Linked DNA regions of Homo sapiens: region 1 is linked to region 2. Evidence: fine-mapped expression QTL. Tissue or cell type: whole blood. Region 2 holds a variant in brackets; the other region holds the start of a gene. All regions are shown on one strand. Distances are from middle to middle.

Region 1 (8,106 bases), 35 kb after region 2:
TGTTCCTTTTATTATGCCAAATACACAAAAGATGGCTATAAAATTTTACACCATGCCTCTTTCAAGACATGTTCTGTGTTTAACCTTGAATACTGATCAATCGGAGGGGACTACCACAGAGTGACTCCATATCAGAATATGAAGGGAGAAATAAACAAAACCAATTACTCCTTTTTTAAAAGAAAACTAAGTCAGTTTTCAATGTTTTTTTATTTGTTTGTTTGTGTGTTGTTTTTGAGCCAGAGTCTTGCTCTGTCATCCAAACTGGAGTGCAGTGGTGCCATCTCGGCTCACTGCAACCTCCGCCTCCTAGGTTCAAGCAATTGTCCTGCCTCCTGAGTTGCTGGGATTACAGGCGTACGCCACCACGCCAAGCTAATTTTTGTATTTTCAGTAGAGATGGGGTTTCGCCATGTTGGCCAGGCTGGTTTCTAACTCCTGACTTCAGGTGATCCACCCACCTCAGACTCCCAGAGTTCTGGGATTACAGGTGTGAGTCACTGCGCCCGGCCTTAACTTTATTTTTTAAGACTCTGCCTCTGATATAGAATACTAATCACCTACACATTGGAGCTATAGATTCAATTCTACCTTTCAGACCACCAAAAAAAGGCTGATATCTCAGAAGGTACCAAGCCCCGGTGGTAGAGTCCCTTTCCAGTGCTTATTCCCTGAGGGTCTCCGGTGGTAGAGTCCCTTTCCAGTGCTTATTCCCTGAGGGTCTCCGGTGGTAGAGTCCCTTTCCAGTGCTTATTCCCTGAGGGTCTCCAGTGGTAGAGTCCCTTTCCAGTGCTTACTCCCTGAGGGTCTTTGAGATTCACCTTAGGACCCTCAGGGAGTGGGCATTGGGAAGGAAGTACTTAGGAATTAAGCAGCACCTGAGACTTAACCTGTGGCCTTACTTCCTAAAATACACTCAGCTCCATTCATCTGTCTCTCCCACCCCATTGGTCTCATTCATCAGTCTTACCCAACATAAAATTGAGGGCAAACCCCCAGCCCACCTCAGGGGAGCTATGCTGGATGCTCAGACCCACAAAAAGAGGTCTCTGTTTTGGTTCACCTTCCCCAAGAGAGTCGAGAGAAGGAAAGTGAGCCCCATGCATGCCCCACATCCTTCCTTCCCGTTGCTCCTCCTGACACAGGGTCTGAAGGCATGACCGAGACCAGGAGGGAGACAGCATGATGTGCCCGTGGAACTCAGCCGGCCCTTGATTCTAAGTCGCTTAAAGAAAGTCGGGGGTCAGGATGCCCCCTTGGCCTCTGTCACACCCTCACAAGACCCCCTTGCTGAATAACACCCCCTCGATGGTCCCCTTACCCTGCGAGGGGGCCGCATCTCTCAGTGCTTCTAGTGAATGGGGGCTTCCCGGCTCTGAGTTCTTCCTGCCACACGAGTCCCTGTCCTTCTTCCCTCGCTCGTGGTTCCTCCAGAGACAGGGTGGCTTCAGAGCGTCCATGCAGGCAGAAGGCCGGCCCAGAGTGTCCCCAGTTCTGCCCTGCTCTGAGCTGTCCCGAGTCAGGCCATGTCAGGCTTTCTAACGTGCTCGGGGACTTCACTTCCTGGTTTTAATTTTTTTTTTCACAACTGAAAGTGGAAGTGTTCTGACCAGGAGGGGAGAAGCTGCCAAAGCTACCCTGGCTCCGTGTCAAAGCCTTTCACCTCAGCCCCTAAGGGCCGACACAAAAGCCAGCTTGCCTCAACACAGTTGACCCTGCCCTCCTGTGGCCTATCATCTTTCAACTAAGATGAAAACAAACAAACTAAAATGACTTGAGGTGCCCCCTCAGATCAGAAGCCTCACAGAGGCAGAGGTGACGCTGTTCCCTGCTGGATTCGGAGGACAGGAAAGTCTGGCTAGAGGGTACCTCAGCCCTCAGACCCACACAAACACCTTCTACCCCGCCTCTCTCCAGTCGCCAGAGCTGCCTGCCTTGGTCTCTGAAGAAGTTCTGGCAAAGCCAAGAAAATAAGCAAGTCAGGAACGACAGGGCTGTGAGTCGTTCAATTGGCATGGTTTCTTTCCCTCTGATACAGTCACACCTCAAAACTTAACTTAAAAATCGATTCTTTCGCCTTGGTCACCCCCAGTATTACCAGGACCTGTATTAGTCTCATTTTTGATCCGCCTAAGGCTGTGGCTACAGGGGGGCCCTGGAGCTACCATTCTCAGATTAGGAAGCCGAAATGACAAATTTTCCTGCCCCTTCCCCACCTCACAGATACCTCAGAATGAAGCAGCACTTTCTCCAGCCTCGATCCCCCACGAAGGCTCACAGGAAGTTCAGCATGATCCTGGCTCTTTGCTGGAGCTAGATTAGGGTTTGTTCTTTCTACAGAGCAGTTCTTAAAAGCTTCCTACTAAGGAAGCCAGGGTGAGCTGTGCCACAGTCTCAGAGAACACAAGAGCTGAGCCCTTGGCCTCTGGGGAGCCGCCTTTGGACATGGAAGAAAGATGAAGGGCTGGGAGACGAAGTGGGGCCTGTGGCATTCCATCCTCTGGCTCATCTCACGGCTGGAGGAGCACTTGTCATTTGCTTAGTTTCAGGAACTCAGCTCCCCAAGAGGCAACTTCCTCTAGAGGAGAGCAGAGGATGGCAGAGTGGGTGTCGAATCTCAGCCACACTAATACCTCTGAGCCCTTCACCGGGTGCTGTCTTCCTTCACCAAAGGGCTCAGGGCCAGGGGAAGATGAGGTTTTATTTCTTTTTTTTTTATTGACCTCCTCCAGTAAAAATGCTCAAGTTCAGGAAGGTTGAGTCATTCTAAAGGCCCATCAGAGTTGTATTCCTATCAATCCTCTGTGCACATGAGTGACACCCTCAGGATTTCAGGGGGTAACTGAAAGCTTTGGCAACCCACAACAATTCTGCATTATTGGGCAGGCTGTGGAAACTGACCAATCAAGTCTCAAATTCTAGCCACACCACCTTGGAGCTATGTAGCTTAGGCCATGCTGTTTAACAGCCTGGAGACGCACTATGCCTCTGTGAAATGGGAAGGATACCACCTGCTTTATAGGATGAGATACACCAATGAAGTAACATACATAATCTACCCAGAACAGTCCCCAGCACCTAATCGAATATCTGCTGATTCCCTTCCTCTCTGTCTGCCAAATGGGACTCTCTGCCCTCAGCAGCTGACGCACGATCCTTCTAACTACACTGAGACAGAAATTTCTTAATGGAAGATGAAGGAGACCCACATTCTGGCTTGGTGTGCTTTAGTACACTTACCAAAATCAGTGTTCCCTTCCAATTCCATCCCCTGCTAGCATTTGGATAGCTCATATATCTCCACCCCTTTTCCAACTGATTTTTTTCTTTGCCTCCCACACAAGTCAGCTGAGATTACTATTCAACTAAATGTAATTTCATGTTATTAAAGAGCCTTAGGTTGAGCATAACAAATCCCACTTTCTTTCCCCACACCAATCCCCTCCCTACTATCTCACAGATATATTCAATATAGTGCAGGTAGTATCATTGCAGCTTACCTTGGAAGAAGACTCTCCCTTCCTGGGTCCAGGAAGTGCTCCCCTCACAGCTGGCTGTATTGATTCAGCACCACATTCAGGCACTTCTACTCTTTCCACAGCTCCTAGGACTGACTGGGACACACCCGAAGCTACTGTGTACTGTCCTGAGAGTGGCCAACACACTCCCCTGGAACCTTTGAATCTGTCACAACAGAAGTTCAAAGGTAGAAGTTACCTGTTCAAACACTTGTAGTAACCTCTGACAGTAAGAAAAGCAGTGTTGGGCAAAAGATTAAAACAAGAGATTGTTATGCAATGGGCTTAAGCGGGAAAAAAAAAAAAGACGGCCCTTAGTTCAGAAAGCTAACGTTTACCAAGAGAAACCTTCGATAAAGCTCTACCTCAGGGGAAGGAGAAGGGGTAGACAGGGCTTTGCATCTGCTTTGGGGGCACAATCCTTGAGACTGTGATAGGAAGAGGAAGGTCTAGATTACTAGAAGAAAAAGGGCTCCTTGAGATCAGAGTGAGAGAAAAATGAGAAGCCACTTTAATTGGCTCAAGCTATAACTTTAGGATTCAGACTAAGCAGAGGTGTGCATTTGCAGACCAGCTATCTTCTAGAAGGGACCACTGCCCCCTTCAGAATTAGAACGTCTCCAAGACAACCAAATGAGCCAAATCAGTCTAGAGTCTAGGCTGAGAGACAAGCCTAGGACGGTTGTTTTTAGGATTCGGAATCACGAACACAGTCTGCAGCACACATAGTTTAGCAAGGCGCTAGAATAGGAAGCATTGCTTCCTGGCTAACACGGTGAAACCCCGTCTCTACTGAATACACAAAAAATTAGCCGGGCGTGGTGGTGGGCCCCTGTAGTCCCAGCTACTTGGGAGGCTGAGGCAGGAGAATGGTGTGAACCCGGGAGGTGGAGCTTGCAGTGAGCCAAGATCGCGCCACTGCACTCCAGCCTGGGCGACACAGCGAGACTCTGTCTCAAAAAAAAAAAAAAAAAAAGAAGCATTGCTACTGCGTCATGGCTCAGCCATCCTACTCTCTCCTTTTTTTTTTTTTTTTTTTTTTTTGAGACGGAGTCTCACCGCAACCTCCACTTCCTGAGTTCAAGCAATTCTCCTGCCTCAGCCTCTGGAGTGGCTGGGATTACAGGCATGCACCACAATGCCTGGCTAATTTTTTTTTTTTTTTTTGTATTTTTAGCAGAGACAGGGTTTCACCATGTTGGCCAGGCTGGTCTCGAACTCCTGACTTCAAGTGATCTGCCTGCCTCGGCCTCCCGAAGTGCTGGGATTATAGGCATGAGCCACCATGCCCAGCCTCTCTTTCCACTTTGAAGTTCTCTAGTCACCATTCTTGATTCCAAGATCATTAGGACTGCAAGGCATCATTACTAAACAAAAACAGTGGGTAGAAATGAAAGAAACCCTGGAGATGATGTGCAAACTTACTGTATAGGTGAGGCCAGTGAGGCCTTTTCAGGTGAAAGAAGGCTTCTGGAATCACACAACCAGTCGGTCAAGACAGCACCTGACTCAGAGTCATGAGAACCCCTGCAGTGCCTTGGCCCCTATGCTGCCCCATTGATCTGTGTATGTTTAGCTACCAGAATGAAGCCGCGGACCCTCGCAGTGAGTGTTACAGTTCTTAAAGGCGGTGTGTCTAGAGTTTGTTCCTTCTGATGTTCAGATGTGTTCAGAGTTTCTTCCTTCTGGTGGGTTTGTGGTCTTGCTGGCTCAGGAGTAAAGCTACAGACCTTTGCAGTGAGCATTACAGCTCATAAAAGCAGCGTAGACCCAAAGAGTGAGCAGTAGCAAGATTTATTGCAAAGAGCTAAAGAACAAACCTTCCACAGTGTGAAAAGAACCCCAGGTGGTTGCCACTCCGGGCTCGGACAGCCTGCTTTTATTCTTTTATCTGGCCCCACCCACATCCTACTGATTGGTCCATTTTACAGAGAGCCGATTGGTCTGTTTTACAGAGAGCTGATTGGTCCGTTTTGACAGGGTGCTGATTGGTGTGTTTACAATCCCTGAGCTAGACACAAAAGTTCGCCATGTCCCCACTAGATTAGCTAGATACAGAGTGTTGACACAAAAGTTTTCCATGTCCCCACTAGATTAGCTAGATCCAGAGTGTCGATTGGTGCATTCACAAACCCTGAGCTAGACCAGGGTGCTGAATGGTTTACAAACCTTGAGCTAGACACAGAGTGCCAATTGGTGTATTTACAATCCCTTAGCTAGACATAAAGGTTACCCAAGTCCCTACCAGAGTAGCTAGATACAGAGTGTCAATTGGTGCATTCACAAACCCTGAGCTAGACACGGGGGGCTGATTGGTGTGTTTACAAACCTTGAGCTAGATACAGAGTGCCCATTGGTGTATTTACAATCCCTTAGCTAGACATAAAGGTTCTCCAAGTCCCCACCAGAGTAGCTAGATACAGAGTGTCCATTGGTGCATTCACAAACCCTGAGCTAGACACAGGGTGCTGATTGGTGTGTTTCCAAACCTTGAGCCAAATACTGAGTGCCGATTGGTGTATTTATAATCCCTTAGCTAGACATAAAGGTTCTCCAAGTCCCCACCAGACTCAGGAGGCCAGCTGGCTTCACCCAGTCGATCCCGCACCGTGGCCACAGGTGGAGCTGGCTGCCAGTCCCACACCGTGTGCCCACACTCCTCAGCCTTTGTGTGTCTGGAATTGGTGGGTTCTTGGTCTCACTGACTTCAAGAATGAAGCTGCACACCCTGGCGGTGAGTGTTACAGTTCTTAAAGGCAGCGTGTCCGGAGTTTGTTCCTTCTGATGTTCGGATGTGTTTGGAGTTTCTTCCTTCTGGTGGGTTCGTGATCTCACTGGCTCAGGAGTGAAGCTGTGGACCTTCGCGGTGAGTGTTACAGCCCTTAAGGTGGGGCGTCTGGAGTTGTTTGTTCCTCCCGGTGGGTTCGTGGTCTTGTTGGCTTCAGGAGTGAAGCTGCAGACCTTCGTGGTGAGTGTTACAGCTCATAAAGGCAGTGTAGACCCAAAGAGTGAGCAGTAGCAAGATTTATTGCAAAGAGCGAAAGAACAAAGCTTCCACAGCATGGAAGGGAACCCCAGCAGGTTGCCACTGCTGGCTGGGGCAGCCTGCTTTTATTTCCTTATCTGGCCCCACCCACATCCTGCTGATTGGTCCATTTTACAGAGAGCTGAGTGGTCTGTTTTAACAGGGTGCTGATTGGTGTGTTTACAATCCCTGAGCTAGACACAAAGGTTCTCCACGTCCCCACTAGATTAGCTAGATACAGAGTGTGGACACAAAGGTTCTCCAAGTACCCACTAGAGTAGCTAGATACAGAGTGTCCATTGGTGCATTCACAAACCCTGAGCTAGACACAGGGTGCTGATTGGCGTGTTTACAAACCTTGAGCTAGATACACCGTGCCGATTGGTGTATTTACAATCCCTTAGCTAGACATAAAGGTTCTCCAAGTCCCCAGCAGTCAGGAGCCCAGCTGGCTTCACCCAGTGGATCCAGCACTGGGTCACAGGTGAAGCTGCCTGCCAGTCCCGCGCCATGAGCCGGCACTCCTCAGCCCTTGGGGTGGTTGATGGGACTGGGCGCAGTGGAGCAGGGGCCGGTGCTTGTCGGGGAGGCTCCGGCCACACAGGAGCCCACGGAGGGTGGGGGAGGTTCAGGCATGGCGGGCTGCAGGTCCTGAGCCCTGCCCCGCCGGGAGGCAGCTAAGGCCTGGCAAAAAATCCAGCACAGCACTGGTGGGCCGGCACTGGTGGGCCGGCACTGCTGGGGGACCCAGCACACCCTCTGCAGCCGCTGGCCGGGGTGCTAAGCCCCTCATTGCCTGGGGCCGGCAGGGCCAGCCGGCCGCTCTGAGTGCAGGGCCCGCGGAGCCCACACCCACCCGGAACTCGGGCTGGCCCGCAAGCACCATGCGCAGCCCCGGTTCCGCCCACGCCTCTCCCTCCACACCTCCCCACAAGCTGAGGGAGCGGGCTCAGGCCTCAGCCAGCCCAGGAAGGGGTTCCCACAGTGCAGCAGTGGGCTGAAGGGCCCCTCAAGTGCTGCCAAAGTGGGAGCCCAGGCAGAGGAGGTGCCCAGAGCGAGCGAGGGCTGTGAGGGCTGCCAGCATGCTGTCACCTCTCACTTGGAAGGTCGATGGGAAGGGGCAACGTGGAGCAGGGGGCGGTGCTCGTCGGGGAGGCTCTGGCTGTGCAGGAGCCCATGGCTGGTGGGGTTGGGTGGGGGAAGGCTCAAGCATGGCAGGCTGCAGGTCCCGAACCCTGCCCCACAGGGAGGCAGCAGCTAAGGCCCAGCGAGAAGTCAAGCACAGCAGCTGCTGGCCCAGGTGCTAAGCCTCTCACTGCCGGGGGCCAGCGGGGCAGGCCTGCTGGTCTGAGTGCGGGGCCTGCCGAGCCCACGCCCACCCGGAACTCTCGCTGGCCCACAAGCCCCGCGTACAGCCCCGGTTCCTGCCCGCGCCTCTCCCTCCACACCTCCCCGCAAGCTGAGGGAGCCGGCTCCAGCCTCAGCCAGCCCAGGCAGGGGCTCCCACAGTGCAGCACGGGCTGAAGGGCTCCTCAAGTGCCGCCAAAGTGGGAGCCAAGGCAG
Region 2 (8,106 bases):
GAAAAGCCTGGAGTCCACTCACAGAAGAGCAGACCTCCTCCGGTATGCACCATGCTGACAGCACCACCTTACACACTCAGGTGTGCAAAAACCGGCGCGGGGGACATCTCACACCTTATGTAGATCAAATGCTCCTTCCCTGATCCTCTGTAGGGAACTTCCTTTTCTCTAATCCTAGATCTTTTCAAAAATTCTAACCAAAATAAAATTTAAAAAGAAGACAATGTCTTGTGTCAGCTCAGAATTAAGGGCAGATAGATAGTAAGCTCCTAGCTGTGATGTCACTAGACTCACACACCCCCATGAAGGCAGGAGCAAGTACTATCCTCCCTGGACACATGCAGACTTAGCAGAGGAAGACTCTGCAGGAAATGAGGGGCCATGCCATGATTAGGGCTCCCATGAGCCAACTCCTTGCCTGCACCTCTCACACCGGAGAAAGAACAGTAAATACTGTGTAGCTGCCTTTGGAATAAACATGTGATAGCAAGTCAGGACCCCCTTGCCACATACTGCTAGGAACACAGAACACTCACCTGTACAATCCTCTCAAACATATGAGCCAGAGGGAGGTAGGATATGGCCACATCATCAGGAGTGGGCTCATAAGCATGCTATGTAGGCCAGGGAAGTAAGAGGAGGCAACATGAGATTAATGCCAACTTTCAATTCCAATGGAGATTTTAAAACTACCTCCTCCCAGGACTACCACAGACAGCTGTATAGGCGGTACACTGTGTAGATCTGAGATGCCTTGAACTGCATATAGTGTAGAAATTTGCAGTGATCCTAAAAGACCAACGCTTGAAAATGTACAGTCCTCTAAACAAAGAACACGCTGGTGTTTGTCCACACTCCAGCCTTTAACGTGTGTGTGTGTGTGTGTGTATGTGTGTGTGTGTGTCTGCCTGCTCTAACCTCAAAAATAAAAATCTTATGACAGATTCACATTTTAATGAGAGCCTCTTTTTCAACTGACCACTGACCTCCACACATTTGAGAAAGGCAGCAGCATTTGAAACAATATTTTGATGGGTTATCATGGCTCCTTTGGGGTCACCTGTAGGAAATAAGAGGTGGAGAGAAAGATACTTTATGTAGCTAATAGGTAGCCTTTGGCCTTGAAAGAAACTAGATTCAATTGGTTTTATTCCAGAAGGCCAAGAGCATTTCCTGTCACTGTGTCTTTTTGTGGATGGTATATGCCTCTGTTTAGGAATAATTAATGCCCCCGGAGATTCTACTGCTGAATGCATCGTTGGCCTTCTACTACTATGCAGAGCACAGCCATGATTTCAGATAGAAGCACAGCTGCAAAGAAAAATTCAAGTTAACCCTCCTTGTCCCTCTGCCCCACATCTCATGCTGTTTATATGTTTGGAATTCCAGATCTACCAATATTATATAGTGATATGGTTATAAACCTTATAAACTGGGCATACTAGAAAGAATATAACTGTAGACCATGATGGACCACATTAAAAACTATTAAGCATTCTAACAGATGGGTGGATGTAGGGTGGGGTTGAAGCCCTTTATGGAGAACTATCACTGAGTTATCTTGATTGAATGAAACCATTCCAGCGGTGTCAAATCAAGAGAGTGGTGGGTTGGTGGGGGCGGGGGAAAGGACTTTCTGACATCATCTTTAAGACCCCTGAAATCTATTGAATATAAACACCTCCCAATATATTAAATAAAGTGTATTTACTTATGTTTATGTTTTTCCATTTGGGAATTCACACTTAGAAGCCTTAGGCTGTGAGCCCCTAAGTATAGGGCTCTTTAGAGGGAGTATTTACCAGCCTACCAGTGGCCAAGAATTGAAGCCATGTTCTTGGCTGACCAGGGGTCTAAGGTTCAGTTTCATGGGCACAGACCTGTGGTCCCACTGGTGAAGCAGATGACGCTCAGGTCTTCTGGGCTAGGAGGCTGGAGGAGGAAGCACAAGGGCTTATTCCACCATGAACTTTGAGAGTTGACTATGGCAAGGCTCAAATTCAGGCAGAAGAAAACTTACCACAGGTTTTCTGAAGTGCTCTTTGCCTAGGTTCTATGTGAATGGAAAACCAAGAAAGAAAGACATTAGTTGAGATGGACAGACTGTGATAAATGTGGCCCTCTCCCTCCCTTTCCCGTGAGAACATCTCTATGGGAATATAAGCAAAATTCCAACCTGGATCAGGACCAGAAGCCAACATTCAGGAACAATGGAAGCCCCAGGGAAGAGCATAAGATTTCTCTAGAAAATCATCTACCTATAGAGGGTAGATTGCATGTTCAAACTTCCCATTGTACTCTTAAGTTTCAGTCATCTAGGGCCCTAACTAAATCTTTTTTGAAAGAAATGAATAGCTAACATTTTCAGAGCTTATTACATATCCATCACTGTCCTGAGAAATCTACATATATGAATTAAGCTAACTCTTTACAAGACCTCTGTGAGGTAGTGATTATTTTTATCACCATTTTACGGACCGAGAGAAGGGAGATGAGATTGCCCAAGGTTGCCTAACAGATGTGGAGCTGGCATGCGAACCCAAGCAGCCTGGCTCCAGGAGCCACATCCTTTAACTATTACTAAACCCCTATTTATATATTATCCACTTAGAAGTCCATACAGCTGGCCACAGAACTTTGTCCTCTCCTGGCATGAGTTTCAAAGTTGTCTTGTGGAAATTATTCTCAGAGCTTCACAGCATGAGTCTAATCTACTCCTCACGTGCCACCCCTGGAGAACAAGAACACTGTCCTCTTGGGAAGGTATCTTGCAAGTTGCCCAAGGTGTTGGACAAGCATTGGAGCTGCAAGCTAAATTTCAGATCCATACCTCAGCATCATATAGGGATAAGATCTCAATTCCACTCTTCTCCCCTCTTTGCTTCAGGTCATCATCAAAGGGGTCCATAAGGATGATCACCTTCAGGCTCGGGGTGAAGCCTTTCTCTACATTCCCTATCAGCACCAATGCCTTTTGGGGTGTGTCACAGATCACCATGGCGATATCAGCTGGAAGCCAAAATAGAACCAGAGGTCATTCCCTCTCTCTGCTAAGTACCTGATTGCCTTGCAAGAAGGAAGAGGTTTTAAAAGTTTTCAAAGCTAACAGGTGTCCAAAGGAGATTACACCTGCAAATCAGATTTATAATGTACAACCTGAAACATTCCATTGATGATAAATGAACTTAACTGAAACAGAAGCACATGTTCTTGAACTGTGCCAGCAGATTTTACAGTTTCTAGAGGAACCACAGAATTCCTTCTGCTTAAGAAGTCATTCAGATAACCTAAACAGGTTACTGAGGTGTGGTTCTATCACTGTTTTATTTGAGGAGGATAGTAGGGAATAGAAGAAAAAGAAGGGGGCAAATAGGATTTTTAGCTGACAAGTATTTTACAATTCTAAATTTTAGCATTTGCTTTGATGCATGTTTAAAGTTTCAAATGATGTTTACTGTGCAAATGGACTTACTCACTTAATCTACTAGTCCCATGACAGAAGGTAACATGTTGGATATGTGAAAGGGCTGTTACTTGCCCATCAAATTTGGACTTGTTTCTCTAACAACGACAATTATTTTCTGCAGACTCACCATGGACATTGGTACATGCTGGTTAACTGTATTGACTTGGATTTACAAAGGTAGGAAATTAAATCTGTAGCTTTACTGTGATTAAGTCAATTAAGCTCACTCTCTGGGCTTTTATCTAGTGTGTTCAGAGTGAGTAGTCTTGTCTCTATATCATCATACCATGTCACCCTGACGCATGTCATTGAAACTTCTTTCTGTGTGTATCTCTGCTTCATGGGCTTTTTGTAGCTTTCCTGAAAATTATATCCTAAGTACTACAAAACTAGAAAGACTTGAACATTTTCCGACCACAGCATTTCAAGTTTGCTTAAACAAACAAACAAATAAACAAAAAAGCAGAAATTGAAGAAATACTCAGCATTGAGAAAGAATCAAGTTGTAATGTAACAGCAAAATTTTACCCTTGTTGACAATATGTACGATGGCTTCTGGTCCCAAGGTGTCATACAGAGGTACAGCTACCATAGAGTACGTGTAACAAGCCAATTCGGAGATGATCCACTGTACAGAGAGAAGTTCAAGTAAGGACTGGAGGGCACACTGAAGAGTACCAGTTCAGTCATTCAGCCAACAAATGCTGTCTGGTTTTTTGTCTTGTTTTGTTTTGCTTTTTTTTTTTTTTTT[G/TG]AGACAGTGCCTCACTCTGCTGCCCAGGCTGGAGTGCAGTGGTGTGATCATAGCTCACTGCAGCCTCAACCTTCCAGGATCAAGCAATCCTCCCACCTCAGCCTCCTGAGTAGCTGGAACTACAGGCACACATCACTATGTCAAGCTAATTTTTGTATTTTTTGTAGAGACGGGATTTCACCATGTTTCCCATTCTGGCATAAAACTCCTAGGCTCAACCTATCTGCCTACCTGGGCCTCCCAAAGTGCTGGGATTACTTATTTGTTGACTTTTATGTAAAAAAAAAAATCACTGTGGGGCCATAGGGACAGTTGTAAATACTGCTATAAAGTACAATTAAATAAGGGAGATAAGAAAGGCACAGGGACAACTGCAATACAAAGGTAGACCAGAATACAAAGGCAGAGTGTGATAAGTTCCATCCGTAAGAGGTATGGAAGGCATTAGGAGCCTTAGGGTGTCAGAGATCACTTTCAAGGGTGAGGAAAGCTATTTGGGACTGCTTGTGGGAAACTGATGAAAACTGGGCAGGGCTTTAGAGGACTAGTAGGATTTGGTTATGGAGGTAGAGGTAGATTAAAAGAAGGAAGTGAATGAACAAAGAATAGTGATATGGTTTGGCTGTGTCCCCATCCAGATCTCATCTTGAATTGTAGTTCCCATAATCCCCATGTGTCGTGGGAGGAACCCAGTGGGAGGTAATTGAATCATGGGGGTGGTTACCCTCATACTGTTTGACGTGGTTTAGCTGCGTACCCATTCAAATCTCAACTTGAGGCCGGGTGCAGTGGTTCATGCCTGTAATCCCAGCACTTTGGGAGGCTGAGATGGGAAGATCACGAGGTCAAGAGATTGAGACCATCCTGGCCAACATGGTGAAATCCTGTCTCTACTAAAAATACAAAAATTAGCTGGGCGTGGTGGCATGTGCCTGTAATCCCAGCTACTCGGGAGGCTGAGGCAGAAGAATTGCTTGAACCCGGGAGGTGGAGGTTGCAGTGAGCTGAGATGGCACCACTGTACTCCAGCCTGGCAACAGAGTGAAACTCCGTCTCACAAAAAATAAATAAATAAATAAATAAAATAAAATCTCAACTTGAATTGTATCTCCCAGAATTCCCATGTGTTGTGGGAGGGACCCAGGGGGAGGTAATTCAATCATGGGTGCTGGTCTTTCCTGTGCTATTCTCATGATAGTAAATAAGTCCCATGAGATCTGATGGGTTTACCAGGGGTTTCCACTTTTTGCTTCTTCCTCATTTTCTCTTGCTGCCACGATGTAAGAAGTGCCTTTTGCCTCCTACCATGATTCTGAGGCCTCACCAGCCATGTGGAACTGTAAGTCCAATTAAACCTCCTCTTCTTCCAGGTCTTAGGTATGTCTTTATCAGCAGCATAAAAACAGACTAATACATTGTTCTCGTGACAGTGAGTGAGTTCTCATGTGATCTGATTTCATAAGGGGCTTTCCACCCCCTTTGCTCTCATTCTTTTCTTTCCTGCCACCATGTGAAGAAGGACATGTTTGCTTTCCCTTCCGCCATGATTGTAAGTTTCTTGAGGCCTCCCCAGCACTGCAGAACTGTGAGTCAATTAAACCTCTTTCCTTTATAAATTACCCAGTCTCAGGTATTTCTTCGTAACAGTGTGATAACGAACTAATACAGACAGCATAACATCATTGTGTGGATACACATTAGCAAGCTTGAAGACTACAGGAAATAAAACTGGAAAGGTAGGTAGGAATCTGCTAGTGATGGGCCTTAAATATCAATGTAGATGTTATGGACTGAATCCTGTCTCCCTGTCACCCCTCCTCCGGCCCAACCCAAATTCATGTTGAAACCCTAATCCCCAATGTGACAGTATATGAGATAGGGCTTTTAAATAAGTAATTAAGGTTAAATGAAGTTTTAAGTGTGGGGTCCTAATCCCTTCCTTCTATGAAGAAGAACGGTCATGAGGGATACATGTGCACAGAGAAAAGGCCGTGTGAAGACAAAATGAAAAAGTGGCTGTCTACAAGTCAAGGAGAGAGGCCTCGGGAGAAGCTAAACCTGCTGACACTCTGACCTTGGATTCCTAGACTCCAGAACTGTGAGAAAATAAATTTCTGTTGTTTAAGCCACATGGTCTGTGTATTAGATTATGGCAGTTCTAGCAGACTAATATACAGTTGCTCCTTGAACACATGGGTTTGAACTGTAAGGGTCTGCTTGTGGATTTTTTTTTTCAATAAAAGTTACATTGAGGGTGCCTATATTTCCTGCCTCTCTTTCCATCTCCTCTACCTCTTCCACCTCTGCCAGGTCTGAGACAGCAAGACCAACCTCTCTTCTCCCTCCTCCTCAACCCACTCAAGGTAAAGATGACTCAGATGAAGACCTTTATAATGATCCACTTCCACCTAATGAATAGTATATACATTTTCTCTTCCTTATCATTTTCTTAATGACATTTTTGTTTCTCTAGCTTACTATATTGTAAGAAAGCAGTATACAATACATATAACATACAAAATATGTGTTAATCAACTACCTATATTATCATAAAGGAAGGCTATTAGTAGTTAAGTTTTGGGGGGGTTATCTGTGGATTTTTTTACTGAATAGGCAGTGGTCCTAACCCCCATGTTGTTCAAGGATTAACTGTATCAGATTAGGTGTTAAGTTCCTAAACTAGAGTCAAGGGAACCTTTTTCTATTGAGGCTGACTGTGACAAGAATGGAGTATGCAGATTCACCTAAAAATGTTGGTGAATATTTTTATATTTGTATTAGCATTAGAAATGGGACTTACAGTTTGTGAACTTTCAACAAGATCCACATAGAACTTAACTCCCCCAAAACTTAACTACTAATGGCTTCTGTCGACTGGAAGCCTTGCTGATAACACAGACAGTTAACACAGATTTTGTATGTTATATGTATCATATGCTGCATTTCTAGGGAGCGTTTGAAGCATAAAAAGACTTCCTCTGGGGATAATGTGCCTAATGACTTAACCAAAACTTGGAGATAAGCTTGATTCTGTCATCTTACTGTCTAAAATCTGCTTCCAACTCACTGTGGAAAGATAGCTATGGCCAGACTCAGTAGCAATGAATGGCTGAATTTACTAGTTCAATTACAAATTGCAAGTTTCAGTTCTAATACTAATACATACTTTCCACAATATCTTCAAGATCTTATTTGGCGGTCCCTCCTAGCTTCCTTATTTTCCTCATGTAACAATCAGACTGACTTCAAAAAACACATGATAGGCTGAGAAAAAAGAGAAGTCCAAACACCTAGGTGAGAGTGCCAGACACTTAACCAGAAATTAAATAGGTTCTGAGTGGTAACTCTTTCAAGTAGAATAAGCATTAGAAAATTTTAACAATAGCTTTGGTAAGGCATTAACAAGTGTTGGAATGCTGGACGGGGAATAGCATTTGAAGTTTTTAAACTTAACCCTGACTCATTTCCTTTAGTTAACTTCAACATAGTTACCTCTGGCCTATTCTGAGCAAAGATGCCGACAAACTGGTCTGGTGATGATTTATAACCTTTATGCAAGAGACAGGAACCCAGGTACTCTGCTCTATCAGACACCTACAAAAAAGAGAGATGGGGTGAGAGAGAGAGAGAAGAGGTCAAGACCAAAAACTGACCAATATCGTATCCTGTAGTTCAGAATACTATGTTAGAAAGAATCTGTCTAAAAACATGGACTCAACTTACCTGTTTGTAAGATAGCCATCTGTAGGGCTGGTTTGGTTTTCTATATCCCAAGCAGGGCCCATTGTCTAAAAACATAATATTAAAAGAAAATCAACTCCAGTTGCAAATTCTCTGGACCAAGGAAGCTAAAAGGAGATTAAGAAGGGGCAAGACACAAAGGGTAAGT

The links. PIP is the estimated chance that this variant, and not a neighbour inherited with it, causes the effect.
Region 1: ACSL5 starts here. The variant in region 2 is fine-mapped to the expression of ACSL5 in whole blood (INTERVAL, PIP 0.91).

Annotation. Positions count from the first base shown.
Region 1 is chr10:112,369,664-112,377,769 of GRCh38, reverse strand. It overlaps ACSL5 (acyl-CoA synthetase long chain family member 5), which reads right to left and starts at 3,654. Exons shown (of 21, transcript NM_203379.2): 1 at 3,501-3,654. RefSeq lists enhancers at 921-1,421, 1,444-1,663, 1,422-1,922, 1,804-1,953.
Region 2 is chr10:112,404,410-112,412,515 of GRCh38, reverse strand. ACSL5 (acyl-CoA synthetase long chain family member 5) reads right to left here. Exons shown (of 21, transcript NM_203379.2): 4 at 7,941-8,005; 5 at 7,710-7,811; 6 at 3,995-4,094; 7 at 2,831-3,009; 8 at 2,021-2,053; 9 at 1,881-1,932; 10 at 987-1,060; 11 at 537-614. Among named protein-coding and RNA genes, the nearest start is that of ACSL5, 34 kb to the right of the region's middle. The variant G/TG (reference allele first, on the strand shown) is at 4,218.